5 linked regions of the Homo sapiens genome follow. The protein of the gene in region 2 purifies or fractionates together with the protein of the main gene of each other region. This does not show direct contact. Each region holds a gene or a part of one and is shown on either strand. Other genes may lie near its edges. The genes, in order: PLEKHG3, CGREF1, HS3ST1, TNKS2 and LMAN1.

Evidence for each region.
Region 1: the proteins of CGREF1 (region 2) and PLEKHG3 purify together in Homo sapiens (affinity purification with mass spectrometry; one large-scale study listed by BioGRID and IntAct). This does not show direct contact.
Region 3: the proteins of CGREF1 (region 2) and HS3ST1 purify together in Homo sapiens (affinity purification with mass spectrometry; one large-scale study listed by BioGRID and IntAct). This does not show direct contact.
Region 4: the proteins of CGREF1 (region 2) and TNKS2 purify together in Homo sapiens (affinity purification with mass spectrometry; one large-scale study listed by BioGRID and IntAct). This does not show direct contact.
Region 5: the proteins of CGREF1 (region 2) and LMAN1 purify together in Homo sapiens (affinity purification with mass spectrometry; one large-scale study listed by BioGRID and IntAct). This does not show direct contact.

What each region holds. Positions count from the first base shown.
Region 1 is NC_000014.9:64,735,420-64,738,936, reverse strand, and holds part of PLEKHG3 (pleckstrin homology domain-containing family G member 3), read right to left. Parts: intron 2,085-3,517; coding exon 2,046-2,084; intron 1,582-2,045; coding exon 1,562-1,581; intron 196-1,561; coding exon 82-195; intron 1-81. UniProt on the Homo sapiens protein: Plays a role in controlling cell polarity and cell motility by selectively binding newly polymerized actin and activating RAC1 and CDC42 to enhance local actin polymerization.
Region 2 is NC_000002.12:27,116,328-27,120,435, reverse strand, and holds the start of CGREF1 (cell growth regulator with EF hand domain protein 1 isoform a precursor), read left to right. Parts: upstream 1-1,307; 5' UTR 1,308-1,590; exon of another isoform or gene 1,591-1,661; intron 1,662-2,950; exon of another isoform or gene 2,951-4,108. UniProt on the Homo sapiens protein: Mediates cell-cell adhesion in a calcium-dependent manner. Able to inhibit growth in several cell lines.
Region 3 is NC_000004.12:11,422,393-11,425,909, forward strand, and holds part of HS3ST1 (heparan sulfate glucosamine 3-O-sulfotransferase 1 precursor), read right to left. Parts: intron 1-3,517. UniProt on the Homo sapiens protein: Sulfotransferase that utilizes 3'-phospho-5'-adenylyl sulfate (PAPS) to catalyze the transfer of a sulfo group to position 3 of glucosamine residues in heparan. Catalyzes the rate limiting step in the biosynthesis of heparan sulfate (HSact).
Region 4 is NC_000010.11:91,857,420-91,860,936, reverse strand, and holds part of TNKS2 (poly [ADP-ribose] polymerase tankyrase-2), read right to left. Parts: intron 3,513-3,517; coding exon 3,407-3,512; intron 1,476-3,406; coding exon 1,289-1,475; intron 1-1,288. UniProt on the Homo sapiens protein: Poly-ADP-ribosyltransferase involved in various processes such as Wnt signaling pathway, telomere length and vesicle trafficking.
Region 5 is NC_000018.10:59,338,756-59,342,272, reverse strand, and holds part of LMAN1 (protein ERGIC-53 precursor), read left to right. Parts: intron 1-3,319; coding exon 3,320-3,513; intron 3,514-3,517. UniProt on the Homo sapiens protein: Mannose-specific lectin. May recognize sugar residues of glycoproteins, glycolipids, or glycosylphosphatidyl inositol anchors and may be involved in the sorting or recycling of proteins, lipids, or both.

The sequences.
Region 1 (3,517 bases), on a different chromosome or scaffold from region 2:
CCTGAAAGCCCTATTTGCAGACTTGAAAATCTGGACTCCAAGTTCTTCCTACTATCCCCATCCCACCTGCTGGTCGCTCACCTCTGGCAGGGAAGAAATGGACTCGAAGCTCATGCGCTTCTCAGTACTGGTTGGAGACCGGCCACTGGGCCTTCTGCTGCTCCTGGAGCTTTCAGACTCCCTGCGCCCCTTTCCCTGCAGAGGTAGAGGTCAGTCATCAACTCCAAGACAACTGGAAGCTGATCCCTTCTGCATCCCAACACGGGCAGTGCCTCCCACGCCCCAAGGGGCTGGGCTGAGCTGAGAGCCAGTCTTGGACCTGAGCCATTCCAGAGCCAACCTGAACTGCCAGGCCTGGGGCTGCGGAAAGCCTTGTCAGGCATGCAGCTTCAAAAAACCTCAGCCCACCTTTCTGTCCCTCCAAAGTGGACTTGACCTTTCCAGCCCCACTGTGTGCTAGCTTCTCCCTGCCCCCACCACCCCACCCCACTTGTCATGCTTGTTGGGCGTTATATTGATTAGTGCCCAGTACTGGAACAGAGCATGCCAGGGGCTCACCAGGGTGTGACAGCGAGCGATGGTGTTAAGTGCTGAGGGGAGGAGTAAAACCAGGGCAGGGTGGGGTGAGGAGGGCAGCAGAGGGGGCCCTCGGGTGGGCATGCACATCCCAGGGAGCATGCAAGGAGGAGGGGAGATCGAAGAGACACCTCACCATAGCGCCCCGGGAGAAAAGTAAAGCGTTGGCCCGATAGTGCCAGCAGTGGAGGGCGGCCAGCAGGGAGCTGGCAAAGTCGGCTACCTGCTCCGCCACCGCCAGGCTCTCCTCCTGCTCCTCCTCCTCCTCCTCTGAGCCTGGGGGCTCCGGCCCAGCCCCCTTCTCGTTGCCTTCATGCCCTGTCAGGTCCTCCAGAGAGACCTGAAAGGCCTGCTCTTCCTCCTCCTCCTCCTCCTCCTCCTCCACCACCTCCTCCTCTTCCTCTTCCTCCTCCTGGGTAGCCCCTTCAGCCTCTGGCTGCAGGCCCCGAGTACGGGAGGGCTGCCCAAAGTCCAGGAGGGTTCCAGCACTGCCTGCATGCTGTTCAGAGCACAAGACCCCCTCGTGACCAGCCTCTTGGGCAACCTCCCGTCCTCCTGCAGGCAGCTGCGGGGGGGGAGCCTTCACACAGAAAGCCACACCTAGATGCCCAACTCAGGTTGCCACTGGGGTCCAGGGAGGGGTGGGCATTCTCATGGTGGAAAGGCTGGGACCTGGTCAAAACTTCAGAACCCAAACAGGCCTGCCTACTTGTCTACCCTAGGGAGAGGGAAATCTGAGTAGGTCCACACTGGGCAGGCCCCCAGCAGGGTGCTGTTCTAGGCAGAGGGTGCAGAAGGGCCCCCAGGGCAAGGCCCATGTCTTATTCATCTCTGTGGCCCTAAGCCACACAGCCTGGTACACAGTGGGTGCTTAGTAGGCATTTGTTGAATGAATGAAGACAATGAGGGCTGAAGGGGCCGGGGGCTGACCTGGGCAGTCCCACCCTCCTCTGTCAGCCAGTCCCCTCCTCCCACTGGCCTTTACCTTCATTCCTGCTGCTCGGGCTGCAGACATCACCACCGGGTCCCCCAGCACACGGGCGAGGGGCAGGGGAGGGGAGGGGAAGAGATCAGTAAGCAGGAAAAAGACCTCTGGACAGCTCCCTGGGGAAGTCCTCACTGGGGGCTCCTGCTCCCAGAACCCTCACCTAGTCTCCTGGGCTTTCAAAAGAATGACTGACAGAGCAGGGGCCCAGGGGCCACAGAGCAGCGCAGGTCTGTGCCTGTTGCTCGGCTCTCATTGTTTCCGGAGGAAAGGGCATGAGGCCTGTGCATGGGGGAGAGCTCCAGCCCCTCTCCTCAGCCAGCCAGGGGCGAGGCCCTCTTCTGGGGGGAATGGAGGCAGAGTTCCCTCTACACTATTCTGACAATCCTCCACCCTCAGGTCACACCCCAGGTTGTCGGCTGCTTCCCCTCCTCCCTCCTCCTCCCCCGCTCACTGGGAATGGCTGGCCACCTCACACACTCACCTTTCTCGTTGAGTTGCCTGAGCAGGTGTTTGGTTGGCTCTGAGGAGGAAAGCATGAGCAGAGTCAGCGCGGGCCAGGAAACTGCTGTGCCTGGCTGGGTCCCAAGCTCACAGCGCCACCAGCCCATCACCAGCTCAAAGTCCACTCTGGCTTGGCCCCCTGCAGTCATAGGCCCCAGGGAAGCTGCCTTCCACAGTGTCGGCGAGCCCCCTTGCACCTACGGACAGGGAGGCGGGCCCATCCATCTCCAGGACCCCCGCTGTGACTACCAGCCCTGCCGGAGCAGTACCACCCATGATGCAATGCATTAGGGCACCTGGCCCAGGGCCCTCGCGCAGGAGCCATAGGGAGGGGACTCAGTTCCATGCTACCCCCTTCAGACCAACTAGCAACATCTCCGGAGGTCCCTGGCTCCACCTCAAGCCCCTTGCCTCCCTGGCAATGAGCATATCAGCGCATCAGCTACACCCACTGCCAAGCCCCTCACAGCATCCCAGCTGGAAAGCAGAGGTCGCACCCGACTTTCTACGGCCCTTAAGGCTGGGCATCACGAAGCCTCGCTGACCGCTGGGGAGAGTTGCCCGGCTGTACGGAGAGTGACCAGGCTCTGGGGACAGGATACAAAACACATCCATTAGGCCAATGGTGTCATCACCGTGTACCCCAGCCTTTTTGAGGATACACCTGAGACTGGAGGGCAGGAATAAGAGGACCTTGTCTCAAGGTCCAGTTCTACAGAGCCTCGGCCTTCGCCTATCCATATCCTTGCCCAGCTGGCGGTAAGTGGGAGGCCCAGGGATCGCCATGATTTGCTACACACCTGGAGTCAGAAGGAAAGTCTACCAAGGTATCTTGCTGTTCCTCAGCAGGCAGGCCTGTTGAAGAACCTCTTTTCTGCTGACACACACAACATACATACACTATCTGTATCAATGTAAGTAAATGCCTAATTGTTTTTAAAGTGAAAAGTAGAAAATGTTCTATTCTTTCATTTTAAAACTTATCAAGAATATTTAATAAGTGAGACATAATTTAAATTAAACAATAGAACTTAATTATCAATAGAATACACTTGTCAGCTCATCTCAGCTCTCTGAGTGGGAAGCAGAAGCAGAAAAAACCTCAAGGAAGTCAGAGTAGATGGCTGAGCCCAGGCAGTAAAGTGCCTGCATGTGGCCCAAGTCCCTCCCTAGTGACTTTCCTGATCTTTTTGTGGTCTACAGTTCCCACAAGTTCAACAGATTGATTTCTTTTTTTGTTTTGTTTTGTTTTGTTTTTTTGCAACAAGGTCTCATCTGTCAGCCAGGCTGGGTGGGTGCAGGGGCACGATATCCATTCACTGCAACCTCTGCCTTCCAGGCTCAAGTGATCCTCCCACCTCAGCCTCCAGAGTAGCTAGGACTATAGGTGCACACCACCATGCCTAGCTAACTTTTTAATTTTGTAGAGATGAGGCCTCACTGTGTTGTCCA
Region 2 (4,108 bases):
GTGTCTGTGTCCACATTTCCTCTTTTGATATGAACACCAGTCATATTGATTAGGGGCCCACCCTACTCCAGTATGACCTCATCTTAATGGATTACATCTGCAATGACCCTATTTCCAAATAAGGTCACAGTCTGAGGTATTGGAGGTTAAGACTTCAACATATAACTTTGTGAAGGACACGAGTCAATGCATAACAGTGATGGGAGCTAGGTGAGCAGATGAGCACATGAGCAGATGGAAAGTGAGGAGAGGGCCCTGAGGAACTCTGACGGTGAAGAAAATGGAGACCTTTTTGAAATGACCAGAGGTAGGAGAGGTATTGCCGAAACCAGCAGAATCCGTGATCTAAAAAGGCAGTGACAAGCAGTGTTCATCACTGGGAGGAGGACAGGATGAGAGTGGGCTTGTCGCTGTGATGACAGTGTCGCTGTGATGGAGTGTCACAAACAACTCAGGAAGAGTTCACCCTGACACCCCAATACATATGCCTCTAACACTCTGCACCGCCACACCCCTGGGCAGTCAGTCACACATTGGCCATACCCTGAAGCCCACACTATCATTTATTTTTTATTTATTTATTTATTTATTGAGACGGAGTCTCAGTCTTGCTTTGTCACCCAGGCTGGAGTGCAGTGGCGTGATCTCGGCTCACTGCAAGCTCCACCACCCAGGTTCATGCCATCCTCCTGCCTCAGCCTCCCGAGTAGCTGACACTACAGGCGCCCGTCACCATGCCCGGCTAATGTTTTTGTATTTTCAGTAGAGACGGGGTTTCACTGTGTTAACCAGGATGGTCTCCATCTCCTGACCTCGTGATCCACCCGCCTTGGCCTCCCAAAGTGGTGGGATTACAGGTGTGAGCCACCACGCCCGGCCCCTGAAGCCCACACTATCACACGGATGCACAGTCACACAAAATACCCCCTACCGTGTCACAAATTCCTCATACACAGAGCCACACATGCCAGTCACAACCGCACATGCTAACAGTAAGTTAGGTTCCATTTTGTCACATACATCTGGGTCCCTCAGGCAGAGAAAGTGGCAACCAAAGCATGAGCACAGTTAAACATACTTCTGATGCACACTGGCCTCACTGTCTCTTGGTCTCTCTGTACTCACATGTGTGCATACAGGCACACGCACACATCCGCGCACACATGCACGCTCACACACGTGCATCCTTACACATGCTCACACTCACGCTCACAATGTCACACGCATGTGCACACCCGCACAAGCACACGAGCGCACTCACGAGCACACGCGGACTCGCACACGCGCACATGCGCACTCACGCACGCACACACGCGCACACTCACACGGGCGCGCGCAGCCCCTCCGGCCGCGGGCGCAGCGGGGGCGCTGGTGGAGCTGCGAAGGGCCAGGTCCGGCGGGCGGGGCGGCGGCTGGCACTGGCTCCGGACTCTGCCCGGCCAGGGCGGCGGCTCCAGCCGGGAGGGCGACGTGGAGCGGCCACGTGGAGCGGCCCGGGGGAGGCTGGCGGCGGGAGGCGAGGCGCGGGCGGCGCAGCAGCCAGGAGCGCCCACGGAGCTGGACCCCCAGAGCCGCGCGGCGCCGCAGCAGGTGGGTGACACCCCGCCCCGGCCGGCCGGAGACCCGAGCCCATCGCCGTCAGCCAGCCAGGGCCGCGCGGGGTAGGTGGCCTCCAGCCTCTGGTCCAGATCCCGAGAGCGCAGTCCCTCTGCATCCCCTGCGGCTCAGACGCGGCGGGAGCAGTGGCCCTTGCCCCTGTGTACCCTGAGGGCAGGTGGAGGAAGGGACTGGAGAGCGAGCCTGAGGCTCCTTGGTGTGAATTTGGGGCTTCGCAGTTCCCCAGGCGCTTCCCCCAGCCCCGCATTCCGTGTTCCAGCAGTCCTGGGGGAGGGGCAGCTGGCGGGAGCTTTCCCCCTCATCCGACGGGGAAGAAATGGAGCGCTGGGGAGGGCCCGAGGCTGTCGTCCGCTTGCAGGTGGCCGAGGGACCAGCTCCCGGGTGTGGGCTCCTCTAGCCCTGTAGCCGCTGTCTCCTTTCTTGGGGGATGGGTGCTGGGAGGCACAAGGGCACCAGAGGGATAAATTAAGAATTAAGGGAGAGGATTCTACTCAAAATTTTAGCTTCCCAACAGTTCGACTCTACAGGAGATGGAACTGCCGGCCTGTGAGGTGCTAGGTTCCTGTCCTGGAATGATTCAAGCAGAGGCCATTTGACAGGGTTGCTGAGGAAGAAATTTTTGCTTTGGATGGGAAGTTACCCAGGATAACCCTGCAAGGCCCCTGCCACAGCCCAGAGGCTCTGAAATACCCAAGCAGCACCTGCTTGGTGCCAGGCACCTACCCTAAGTTTTCTCATTGCAGCCTCCCCAAACCTTTAGGAGACAGATACCGTTATCCTCATTTTTAAAATGCAGATCCCGACCAGGAGCAGTGGCTCACGCCTGTAATCCCAGCACTTTGGGAGGCCGAGACGGGCGGAACACGAAGTCAGGAAATCGATACCATCCTGGTTAACACGGTGAAACCCCGTCTCTGCTAAAAATACAAAAAAAATTTAGCCAGGCGTGGTGGCAGGCGCCTGTAGTCCCAGATACTCGGGAGGCTGAGGCAGGAGAATGGAGAATGGCGTGAACCCGGGAGGCGGAGCTTGCTGTGAGCCGAGATCGTGCCATTGCACTCCAGCCTGGGCGACAGAGCGAGACTCCGCCTCAAAAAAAAAAAAAAAAAAAAATTCAGATCCCAGGGCTCAGAGAGGTTAAGACACCTGCCTAGGTCCCACAGTGAGTAGTATCAGAGGCAGGATTTGATCAGAAGTCTAACCTGTAGAGCGTGCTCTCCTCCCATGCACTGGTGCAAAGGCTTGAAGAACACTGGGGCCGGAGGGTCATTGTGAATGTGTGAGTGCACGTGTGTGACATAACTTTATTAAATTACATGGCAACTGTTAACAGTTATGGTGGCTTTCATGTGTTTATTAGGGTAATTATGTTCATGCACATTATAGTTATAGAAAATGGTTAGGGACATTTTTATTGGACAGGCAGTGGTTCAATAACTATTTTATTTCTCTCACAAAAGCTTTTGTTAATGTTTAGAAATGTCTAAGTGTCAACACATCGCACTAACCTCATTACACATTACATGAGGTGTCTTAGCCTTTCCTTAAACCACTGAGGTGGGTTACTTGCACTAAAATGTCACAGTTGGAAGCATTACTTAGAATATTGGCCAGGTGCAGTGGCTCATGCCTGTAATCCCAGCACTTTGGGAGGCCAAGGTGGGTAGATCACTTGATCAGGGGTTCGAGAACAGCCTGTCCAACGTGGTGAAACCCCGTCTCTACTAAAAATACAAAAATTAGCCAGGTGTAGTGGTGCACACCTGTAATCCCAGCTACTTGGGAGGCTGAGGCAGGAGAATCGCTTGAGCCTGGGAAGTGGAGACTATGGTGAGTAGATTTTGCGCCACTGCACTCCAGCCTGGGTGACAGAGCGAGACTCTGTCTCAAAAAAAGAGAGAGAGAGAGAGAGAGAGAGAGAGAGAGAGAGAGAGAGAGAGAGAGAGAATAGGCCTGGCCTGGTGGCTCATCCCTGTAATCCCAGCACTTTGGGAGGCCAAGGTGGGCAGATCACCTGAGGTCAGGAGTTCAAGACCAGCCTGGCCAAGATGCCGAAACCCCATCTCTACTAAAAATACAAAATTAGCAGGTCATGGTGGCACATGCCTGTAATCCCAGCTACTCGGGAGGCTGAGGCAGGAGAATCGCTTGAACTCGGGAGGTGGAGGTTGTGGTGAGCTGAGATCGCGCCATTGCACTCCAGCCTGGGCAGCAGAGTGAGACTCTATCTCAAAAAAAAAAAAATTATACTGAAAGTCCACATCATTTACTTTTTTTTTTCTCTCTCTTTTTTTGAGACAGTCTTGCTCTGTGACCCCAGCTGGAGTGCAATGGCACAATCTTGGCTCATTGCAACCTCTGCCTCCTGGGTTCAAGCAATTCTCGTGTCTCAGCCTCCGAAGTAGCTGGGATTACAGGCACGTGCCACTGTGCCTGGCTAATTTTTATATTTTTAGTAGAGATGGGGTTTCACCATGTTGGCCAGGCTGGT
Region 3 (3,517 bases), on a different chromosome or scaffold from region 2:
GAGAAAGTAAGCAAATAAGCCAATCCAGTAACAAGGTGACTCCAGATAAACATACTTGCTACCTAATTATGTTACTGAAGAAATTATTACCATGAAAGAAAGAAGGTGATGAAAGGGAAATATTCTTGGGATGGTCCATCTCATGAGACAGGCAGAGACTCGGTTATTTATCTGACTCCCATACTAAACTGTAAATTCATCAATGACAAGAACTATTTCTTAATATCCTGCACAACTGCCTTGTGAACGACAATCAATAGCAAAGGTAGGGGCAGATTTGGGAGAAGGTGTACCAGAGTCTCCAAGGGCACAAGCACACTTTACACTTGGAACACATTTTTTAAAAATAAATACTTTTAATAATGCAAAATGAAATTTTATAATAAAAATGTCATTGCCAGATAAAGAAATTAAAGCCTCAAAAAAATTTCCGTGGACGATGGGAGCAGGCTTAAAGTAAGTTAATAAGCACAGATGTAAACTGTTCCTGGAACAAAACAAATGATCAAGTTAAAAGGTGCTCAGGAGGCTGAGATAGGAGAATCCCTTGAACCCAGGAGGCAGAGGTTGCAGTGAGCTGGGATCACGCCACTGCACTCCAGCCAGGGCAACAAGAGCGAGACACCGTCAAAAAAAAAAAAAAAAAAAAAAAAAAAAGTGCTGAACGTCAGAGTTCTGAGTATGAAAACTCAACAATTAAGGCATCCTTACCACAGTCCTCAATCACTGTAGTTGCCTAATCATTTGAGATCATGTTTAATGTATTTCATGCTGGTCTATAATTTCCTTGCAGAGTAGTCCTTGACTGGTTTTGTTCATCAATGTACTCTAACACGTAATGCAATGCCGGGTACATGGCAGACAATAAACGTGCTCAATAGTCAGTTTTATTAAAATTGAGAGTATAGCTCAATATCCAAAACTACCCAATGGATGATAGACCCAGGATACAATCAAACTCCCACATAGAAAATATTTTATGTTGGATAATGAAATTTAACTTTGGGTTATGTTGAGCCAGAGACTGAACTGCAGGCTCCCTGGCTAACAGCCTAAGGTTTCTCCCCAGTATCCTGATATTTCCTATCACTTTCCTCTAGTTTTTATTTTTTAATCCTTAGCACATCACTATCTAACTAGGAGAGATTCTGCTTATCTGTCTTGTGTTTTGTCTGTCTCCTCTGCTGGAAGATAAGCACAAGGGCGAGGACTTCCATCTGTTTTGTTCCCTACTGTGTCACCGGTGAGCAGAACAATATGCGGTACATGGCTGGAACTCAATAAACGTGTTAAAGGAGTAAACATGATTGCTGTAACCACTTGCAGAGATAGGAAGAAGGAACATCCCGAACAGAGGTTCACTCTGTAAACAGTAACTAACTAGAGCACTGTCTGTGCTCCATGTCCCTACACTCTTGCCTCGATATTCTGAACAACATGCCCTCCTGAATTTCATATTCCAAATTTCCCTCATATCCCTGGAAACCAGAGGCCATACATTGGAGGCCTGTGTGACAGATATAAGGCTTACACACAGAAATGTTTGGTTTGGCCCACATGGTGTTATTTAGGAATATCGAATTAGCTGCTGGCACTTGAAAGTGAGTAGATTTTACATAAAACTGTGAATTGACAGTCTATCTTGAAAAAAAAAAAAAAAAAAAAACATAACCAGGTCTGGCAAGACCAGACCTGAAGTCCCGCCTGCAGCCCCTGTGCTGGATCTGGGCTACAACCCCCACTTACCCAGGCACAGGGCCCAAGTCCTGTTCCACTCAAGCTGTTACTTGCCTGGCTGCTGAAGACATTAGAGTTTGCGACCCCTGCTGGAAAACTACCAAAAAGCATAATGTATTAGAGAAAAAGAAAGATGCCCACTGGGATCTATTTCTGTTATGTTTAGAGTATTGCTTGGAAGAATAATGTATTCATTTTTCTAGACCTCTTGTAGTAGCACATAACTATTGACAAACTACGGCCCAGTAGATATTATTCTAACGATCTGAAAAAGCTACAGACTTCATTCCCCATGGGTAGAGGAAGCTAAGGATGTTTCATGCTGGAGACAGGCCTGAAGATGAATGGGGAGAAGCTGTACATCAGTGGGTTGCAATTCTGGCTAAGTCAGGGAGAAAGGGAATTCACTTGAAGACTATGGGTTGCCTCTAGGAATTGCTGAGAAGCTGAAAAGCCAGGATTGGAAAATGAGAAGGAATGAAAGGAACCTGGGCACCAGAGGCACATCAAGATGGTGTTGCAGAAAAGGCACCTCTGGGACCACAGCTTGGGACATGCATACTGCTGCCAACGCCACTTGATCCATGATCCAAGGTGGTAAATAAACACTCCAATGTCCCTGTGCCCTTTAGCTAGTCTTTCAAGATTCCAGGCCCCAGGTGGGATCATTCAACTAAGCCCTAGTTCAGGGCTGGGAGATATGGACAAGGAGAAAGAGGCCCATCTCCCACAAAAAAAAAAAAAAATCCTTCTATGAAGGGAAGGTTGTGTTCCCTAAATAGGATGTTTGGTTCCAACTGCTTAGAAGGGTTTTAAGTGAGTCTGAAGAGAGAGGGCACTACAAGCACGACTGTAGAGTGGAATAAGAACAGACAGGCCTGAATTCTAGTCTGGAATCCTTTGTACCTTTAGAAAATTAATTAAGTTTTCCGATCGGCAGATTCCAAATCCTTAAAATAGAAATGACGCCATCTGCTCTCCAAGGTTGCTGTGAAGATTCAGTCCAATCACTCATTCAATTATTCCAAATATACTTATTGAATGTCTAAGTGCCAGGCAGGCACTGAGTTAGGTTCTGGAGACACGTTTGGAACAACACCTAAAATGCAATGATGAGGAGCCAGTGCATTATGCTGATGAAAGATTCAGACAAGGGGGACCCGGGTCATCTCGTGACACTGGTCATGTTTTACTTTTCCCCAGTGGAGTCACTCCCCATTTGTGACTTTTCTCCTTTTTTAAAAAAATTATTAATTAACATCAGGGCCCTCTCTTCAAACAGATTTTCTTAAGACATGTAATGTGTATTATGTTAAAAGGAAAAACACTCTAAAAATTGACTGTGATCCTGAAAACAAGAAAGGAATCATTCTGAGAAGTAGTGAGGCCCGGTGCTTGTAGCATTCAGGTGGAGTGATCACAAGAAGAGACTGGCCAATTAAAAGAAATCTCTCCCACTTAATGTTTAGCATATGTCATTTACTCAGACATATGCAAACTATGATTAAAATGAACATTAAAATAGATCTACGATAAAACTTAATTTTTTGTATTTTTTACCCTTTACAATTGCACAAGTGTTCTCCAATCGGCAAGATGCATTTCATATACATTTTCTCACTTTCTTATAATAATCTTTTCATCACTGTTTTGCAGAGGAAGAAATTTAGGGTCAGGGAGGGAGAAATTGTTGCCCAAGGTCATGGGGCAAGAAGTTGGCTTTAAATCCAGCTAGCACTCTCCTGCCTTCTGCCATAAGAAAAGAGCAGCCTCAATTGAA
Region 4 (3,517 bases), on a different chromosome or scaffold from region 2:
ATCAGAACTATTTAGCCTTCAGACCATATATGACAAATAAAAACAGCAGTGTTCAATTTACAGGAAATTACATGCCTCCTAACCACTCCAATTTATGATCTAAAATAGAAGTGAGTGGGACGTCATACATAGGAGGGCCTACTGTGTACTACCTATGCAGGCCTAAATTTAGAGGGGTAACAGTAAGAACAAAACAAACACAAAGAAAGAACCTGTTTCCCTCCATGACTGCAATTCTTCAGCTCGGAAGCCCTTTGAAATCAACTGGGAAGCTTTTAAAAATTCTAATATCCAGATCATGCCCCAGACCAATTAAAAGAGATTCTGTGAGGGTGGGACACAGGCATTAATAGTTTTTTAATATTCCCTGGGTGATTCCAATGTGCTGCCAAAGTGCAAAGTACTGCTCTAGGGGTTTTTTTCTAGATCAGTGGTCAGAAATACAGTGTCACATCTGGGAACTTGGTAGAAACTCAAATTCTAGAGTCTCATCCCAGATCTACTAAATCAGCAACTGAGAAGGTGGAGCCTAAGAATCTGTGATTTAAACAAGCCATCTAGGTGACTCTAATGCATGCTAATGCTTGATAAACTACTGCTCTGTATATTCAATAAGCAGTGCCCTAACTGTCGAATAAATCTCAGGAATTAATCTTACTGGATTTTTCAAGTGGCATTACTTTTTGCCTATAAGGATTTTATAAGTTAGGGACAAGTTACTTAAATGATTTTTAACAAGTGAGTTAGAACAGGTAATTAAAAGTGGAAAAAAAAAGTGCAAAGTAGTTATTTGATTATTATTTCCTTTCAAAAAGGATCAATGTTTTAATTTCAAGTTCTTATAGTAATATTGCAAATTGAGGATTAGGATCGTATCACAGTGGAAGAGAGGCTCAGGCACTGCCATCAAATAATTAGATTTGACAAATAATGCCATTTTAGCATTTGAATACTAGATTTTTAGAGTCCACAGAGTCCTACAATACTCAAGGGCTACAATAAAGCCTCTTTCATGCCTAATGTTACTTTCTACTCAGTATGCTTTAAGGCACCAGATATTCTAATGATTAAATTAGCCAAACAGGTCAAGTGCTTAAATTATAATTGGCCCATACGGATCATTTAATAAATATTAGCTATTATTACAATTGGTGAGAGGGCCAAAAGCAATCTAAAACATGCCTAGCTTGCATTCCTAAGACTGTCCAACATAATGCTTTGCCCTCAAAAATGCAACTAGTTCTTATCTGATTACCACCAAAATAAATGAGAACAAGTGATCTCTTACCTGTGGCAAATGTAACAAGATCTGTCTTTGTGAACTGGACACCCAGTACCTCCTCCAATTCCATATACATATTGATTGCTTTTGGAAGAGTTTTCAGCAAAATAAATGCCAGCTCCAAACATACCACCTATGTACGCATGCCTTTCATCAAAGCCTTTGTGGATAATTGCATTCACAAAAGGAGACCCTGAAACACATATAGATGGGTAACAATAATTTAAAATTTATCTTAGAATAAAAAGTAAAAAACTAGTTTCTTAGAAACTGAATTCTTAAATATATAGCCCAACCATAATAAAGCCAAAACGAAAAAGGGTAACAAGTTAACTGTCAGCCAGCTATTTTAGAATAAAGAACTGCTAACATCAACTAATGTTTCTAACAGAGTGCTGGTTTATGTGCTAAAATAAGGACACAGATTGAACTAGAAAAACAGAGTACTTGAAATATCAGTGTAAGAGTTACCAAATGCCAGACTGCAAATCCATAAAAATCTAAAACCAAGAGGCTCATAATTCACTTTAGATAGCAAAGCTAAATGCAATTAGGTCTTAGAATGATGCCTATGCCTGTGTGCTTTTTTGAAGATACCAAGTGGCCCAAGTAGACTTTCACATTCTTTTTTTTTTTAAATTTTTTTGAGATGTAGTCTCGCTCTGTGGCCCAGGCTGGAGTGCAGTGGCATGATCTTGGCTCACTGCAACCTCTGCCTCCCGGGTTCAAGCAATTCTCCTGTCTCAGCCTCCTGAGTAGCTGGGACTATAGGTGCACACCACCATGCCTGGCTAACTTTTGTATTTTTAGTAGAGACAGGGTTTCAACATATTGGTCAGGCTGGTCTCAAACTCCTGACCTCAGGTGATCCACTCACCTTGGCCTCCCAAAGTGTTGGGATTACAGGCGTGAGCCACCGCACCCGGCCCAACTTTCACATTCTTATTCTCTTTCTTATACCTCTTCTCTTCTATCCTTCCACTTCTGCCTTTCATTAATTACGATACAAGATTCTATCTGCAAATGTGGTGCTTTCCCTCACCCCCTGCACATTGACTTCTCTCTCCTCTTTCCTTGGGAGTGGAGTAGAGTGGGGGATGGAAAAAGTCAAAAAACCACAGCTAATTCATTTATCAAGATCACATTCCCTTTCCACAGACAGACAGGAAAATATACTGAATTCTACTTTACAGAAATACAGATGAATAGAATCATTTTTTGAATTAACTTGGGAAAACCAAAATTATTTATATTACAAATTAGAAAAACCATATTATAACCATCAATTAACAGATAAATAAATATGCTCTGTGTCAAGAGATTATCATGATAATTATTTAGGGTTTTGGAATAAGGAGTGCAACATGTTTAGATTCTGCACATGAATCCATTCTGTTACAGCCATTCTCCCAGGGTATTATGAAATTTACTGTGTTTTAGAGAACTTTACAGGTCTCTAAAATTTTTCTGCAATCAAGGACAAATGAAGAAACAGACTGGAACTACTATGGGTAATGTACTTGAAGCCCTCATAAATACTACATTAATATGTTTAACTTTGCTAAAATTTGAAAGACTAATCAACACCTGCCAGCTTATAATACAAAAAAAGTAGAAAATTCCAAGAAGAATAAGTAATTGTGCTTTCAATTCAATTCTATGGTTTCAATTCTACAGTCATCAGAAACCTCTACAGGTTCAATAACAATGGCTCTTTTCAAATTGTGTGGGTTTGATACTTAGAATCAAAATCAGAATAGGATGTACACCTTCTTCTGAGGTGATTCCCAGGTCTTATTTTTAATTCAATCAACTAGTTAAATGGAAAACACAAAATTTCCTAGAGTGACCATAAGCAAAATTTACTATTTAAAGAAAAAAGGAAAAGATAGTCAACACTCTCATTTCTATTTTTATTGTGGTAATCTTATTTAAAAACAATCCATTATAAAATACACAAATTCAAAAGAAGTTGAAAATATAAATGTGAAAGTTACAGAAATAGTAGGTTTATCTTAAAATACTGACATAAAGAATATACAGGCTTATTATTATTTCATATCTGAACAAAAAAACTATCCTAATGTGGAAGACAGTGGTAGAGTTGGTGGGGAGGAATCTTACCATGAAATAGCATTCGTTCATTGGCATGGTTGTGGTTTTCTTCAGAAACTTCTTTTCTCCGGTGAGTGTATCTTTCCCATAGTTTCTTGTTACAAACCTTCTGAATCTATA
Region 5 (3,517 bases), on a different chromosome or scaffold from region 2:
TCAGGAGAATTGGTTCTTCTTGATATGTTTGATAGAATTCAGCTATAAGTCCATCTAGTCCCGGCTGTTGTTAAGAGATTTTTTTTTTTACTACTGATTCAGTCTTGCTACTCATTATTGATCTGTTCAGGAGTTCTGTTTCTTCCTGTTTCAGTCTCAGAAAGTTGTGTGTTTCCAGGAACTTATCCATTTCCTCTAGGTTTTCTAGTTTGTGAGCATATAGGTGTTCAAATAGTTTCTGACGATCTTTTGTGTATTTGTGGAATCTGTTGTAATGTCTCCTTCTTTTCTGATTGTGTTTATTTGGATCGTCTCTCTTCTTTTCTTGCCTAGTCTAGCTAGTGGTTTATCAATTTTGTTTATCTTTTCAAGGAAGCAACTTTTTGTTTTGTTGATCCTTTATTAATTTTTTTGGTCTCTATTTCATTTAGCTTTGCTCTTATGTTTGTTATTTCTTTTCTTTGCTAACTTTGGGTTTGGTTTGTTCTTGTTTTTCTAGTTTGCAGAGGAATAATGTTAGATTGTTTGCGATCTTTCCACTTTCTGATGTGGCATTTAATGCTGTAAACTGCCCTCTTCACACTGCTTTTTTCAGTTTTGGTTTGGTGTTTCCATTTTCATTCATTTCAAGAAATTTTTACATTTGTGTCTTAATTTCTTCATTGACAAAGTGAATGTTCAGGAGCATGCTGTTTAATTTCCATGTGTTTGTTTAGTTTCTTAAGTTCCTCTTAGTATTGATTTCTAGATTCATTCCATTGTGGTCTAAGACACTTGATATGATTCTGATTTTCAAAAATTTGCTAAGACTTATTTTGTGGCCTAATATGTAGTCCTGTGTCGGAGAGTCTTCTATGTGCTGGTGAAAAGAATGTATATTCCATAGTTATTGTAGAAAGTTCTGTAAATGTCTAAGTCCATTTGGTCTAAAGTCCAATTTAAGCCCAATGTTTCTTTGTTATTTTTCTGTCTCGATCTATCTAGTGTTGTGTGTGTGGTGTTAAATTCTCCCACTATTATTGTATTACTGTTTTTCTCTTTCTTTAGGTCTCGTAATAATTGTTTTCTGAATTTTGATGCTCTAATGTTGGGTGCATATAAATTAGGATTGTTATATCCTCTTGGTGAATTGATCCCTTTATCATTATATAATAACCTTCTTTGTCTTTTCTTTTTTAAGTCTGTTTTATCTCATATAAGTACAGCTACTCCTCTCACTTTTGGTTTCCATTTGCTTGGACTATTATTTTCCACCTCTTTACTTTCAGTCTATGTGTGTCTTTATGAATAACCTAAGTTTCTTGTAGGCAGTATATAGTTGTGCCATGTATTTTAATCCATTCTGCCAGTCTGTATCTTTTAGTGGAACATTTAATCCATCTGCATTCAAGGTTAATATTGATATATGAGGCTTTGTTCTTGTCATATTGTTCATTATTTTCAAGTTGTCTTATAAATTCTTTGTTCCTTTCTTTTTTCCATCTTTGTCTTTGTCATTTGATGAAATTCTGTCATGTTGCCATTTGATTCTTACATCTTCCTCCCCTCTGTGATTGTTTTATAAGAACTTTTATTTTATATTTCTGTTTTTATCATGGTGAATATTGCCCTTTTGTTTCCATGTTTAAGACCGCTTTGAGCATTTCCTGTCATGCTGGTCTGGTAATGACGGATTTCCCCAGCATTTGCTTGTCTGGGAAAGGCTTTATTTCTTCTTCATTTGTGAAGCTGATTCTAGCAGGATATAAAATTCTTGGCTGACAGTTTTTTTTTTTCTTTTATTAGCACTTTGAGAATGCCCATTCCTTTCTGGCCTGTAAAGCTTCTGCTGAAAAGTCTGCTGTTAATCTGATGGAATTTCCATTATAAGTGACTAAATACTTCTCTCTTGCTAATTTTAAAATTATTTCACATTGACTTTAGACATTCTGAATACAATATGCTGTAGTGAAACCCTTTTTGCAATATATTTTTCTGGGGATTGCTGGGCCTCCTGTATCTGGACATCTAACTCTTTTGCTAGACTTGGGAAGCTCTCATCAATTATTTTCTTAGTTATTCTCCTTAGCCAGACAACAACTGCAGCCATATGAACTTGAACTCGGACTAAGGATAGGGCACAGCCCAGCATGAAACTCTCAAAATTGTGCCTTGTGCCTGGGACCAGGGAGAGCAGGGCCCTTCCTAGTCAGGTGTCATGAGCAAGAAGCTGTAAGGAGTGCAGTCTGCTCACATCTCAGTTTCACAAGAGCCCATTGCAGGGCAGTGGGTATTGTCCTAGATATGCATAGGAGAGCCTGTTTCCTGTCTCTCCTTGGCCAGGTGGTAGCTACAGCCTTGTCAGCCCAAACATAGCCTGAGGGTGGGGCACAACCCTCCATTAAACTCTCAGTGTTTCACCTTGGGTCTGGGACCAGAGAGGGTAGGGTCCCTTCCAGGCAAGCAGCATGGGCAAGAAGCTGTGGGGAGTGCTGTCTACTCATGTCTCAGTATCAGCAGCACCCTTCAGCAAGGCAGGAGGGACCTTCCTAGGGGTGCATGGGAGTGACCAGTGTCCCCCCTTCTCTCCTTGGAACATTGCAGCGACTGCAGCCATGTCTGTAGATCCCCAGTATCTAGGCTATCAACAGTGGTGCCCAACTGGAGCTGTTGTAGGCTCAAATGCCTGTGGGATTCCATGTGGTTTCCCTTTATGGAGCAACATCTCTGTGCAATATTTAGGCAGTTCCATATGTCCAGCCCACAGCCCTAGTGGGTCAGAGGTTTCTCCTGTAGCCAGGATCATAAAAGCCCATTTTGGACTGCAGGGCCCTGGGGTTTTCTCTCTTACTGTTTCCCATCATCTAGGAGCCCTTCTGGTGCTCAGTCAGCTCCTGGCTGGGCAAGCTGCCTCAAACTCTCTCCTTATTTTGGTGCTTCCCATTTCTTCTCTGATGAATCCTAGCATTCTCTCCTAGGCAATCTATTTGAAATGCAAGTATCTACTTACTACTCTGGTTTTTCTCCGTGGAGGAGGTACATACTACTTGCATCTGGTTAGCCATTTTGATCCCTCCTGAGATTATCCAAGAAAAATTGTTTTTAAATAAAAAAATTTAAACCCAGTTTATAATAAGTGTTCAATCACCTGAAATGGCAGAAAACAAATAATTTAATCATTATTGAATTAATTATTTGCATATTTTCTGTTTGGGAGATTGTACCACTGTGATGGTGATGTCCTAATTTTGCTGAATGTTGGCACTTTGGTCACTTACGTTATTTCAAAAACTACATATGTGTAGGTGACTCTGATCATTTTTATTTATTTCCTTTTCAGCGGAGGAAATATTTGAGAGTGTAGGAGATCGAGAGCTAAGACAAGTCTTTGAAGGACAGAATCGTATTCATCTTGAAATCAAGCAGCTGAACCGGCAGTTAGATATGATTCTTGATGAACAGAGAAGATATGTCTCTTCCTTAACAGAGGAAATCTCTAAAAGAGGAGCAGGAATGCCTGGGCAGCATGGGCAGGTGG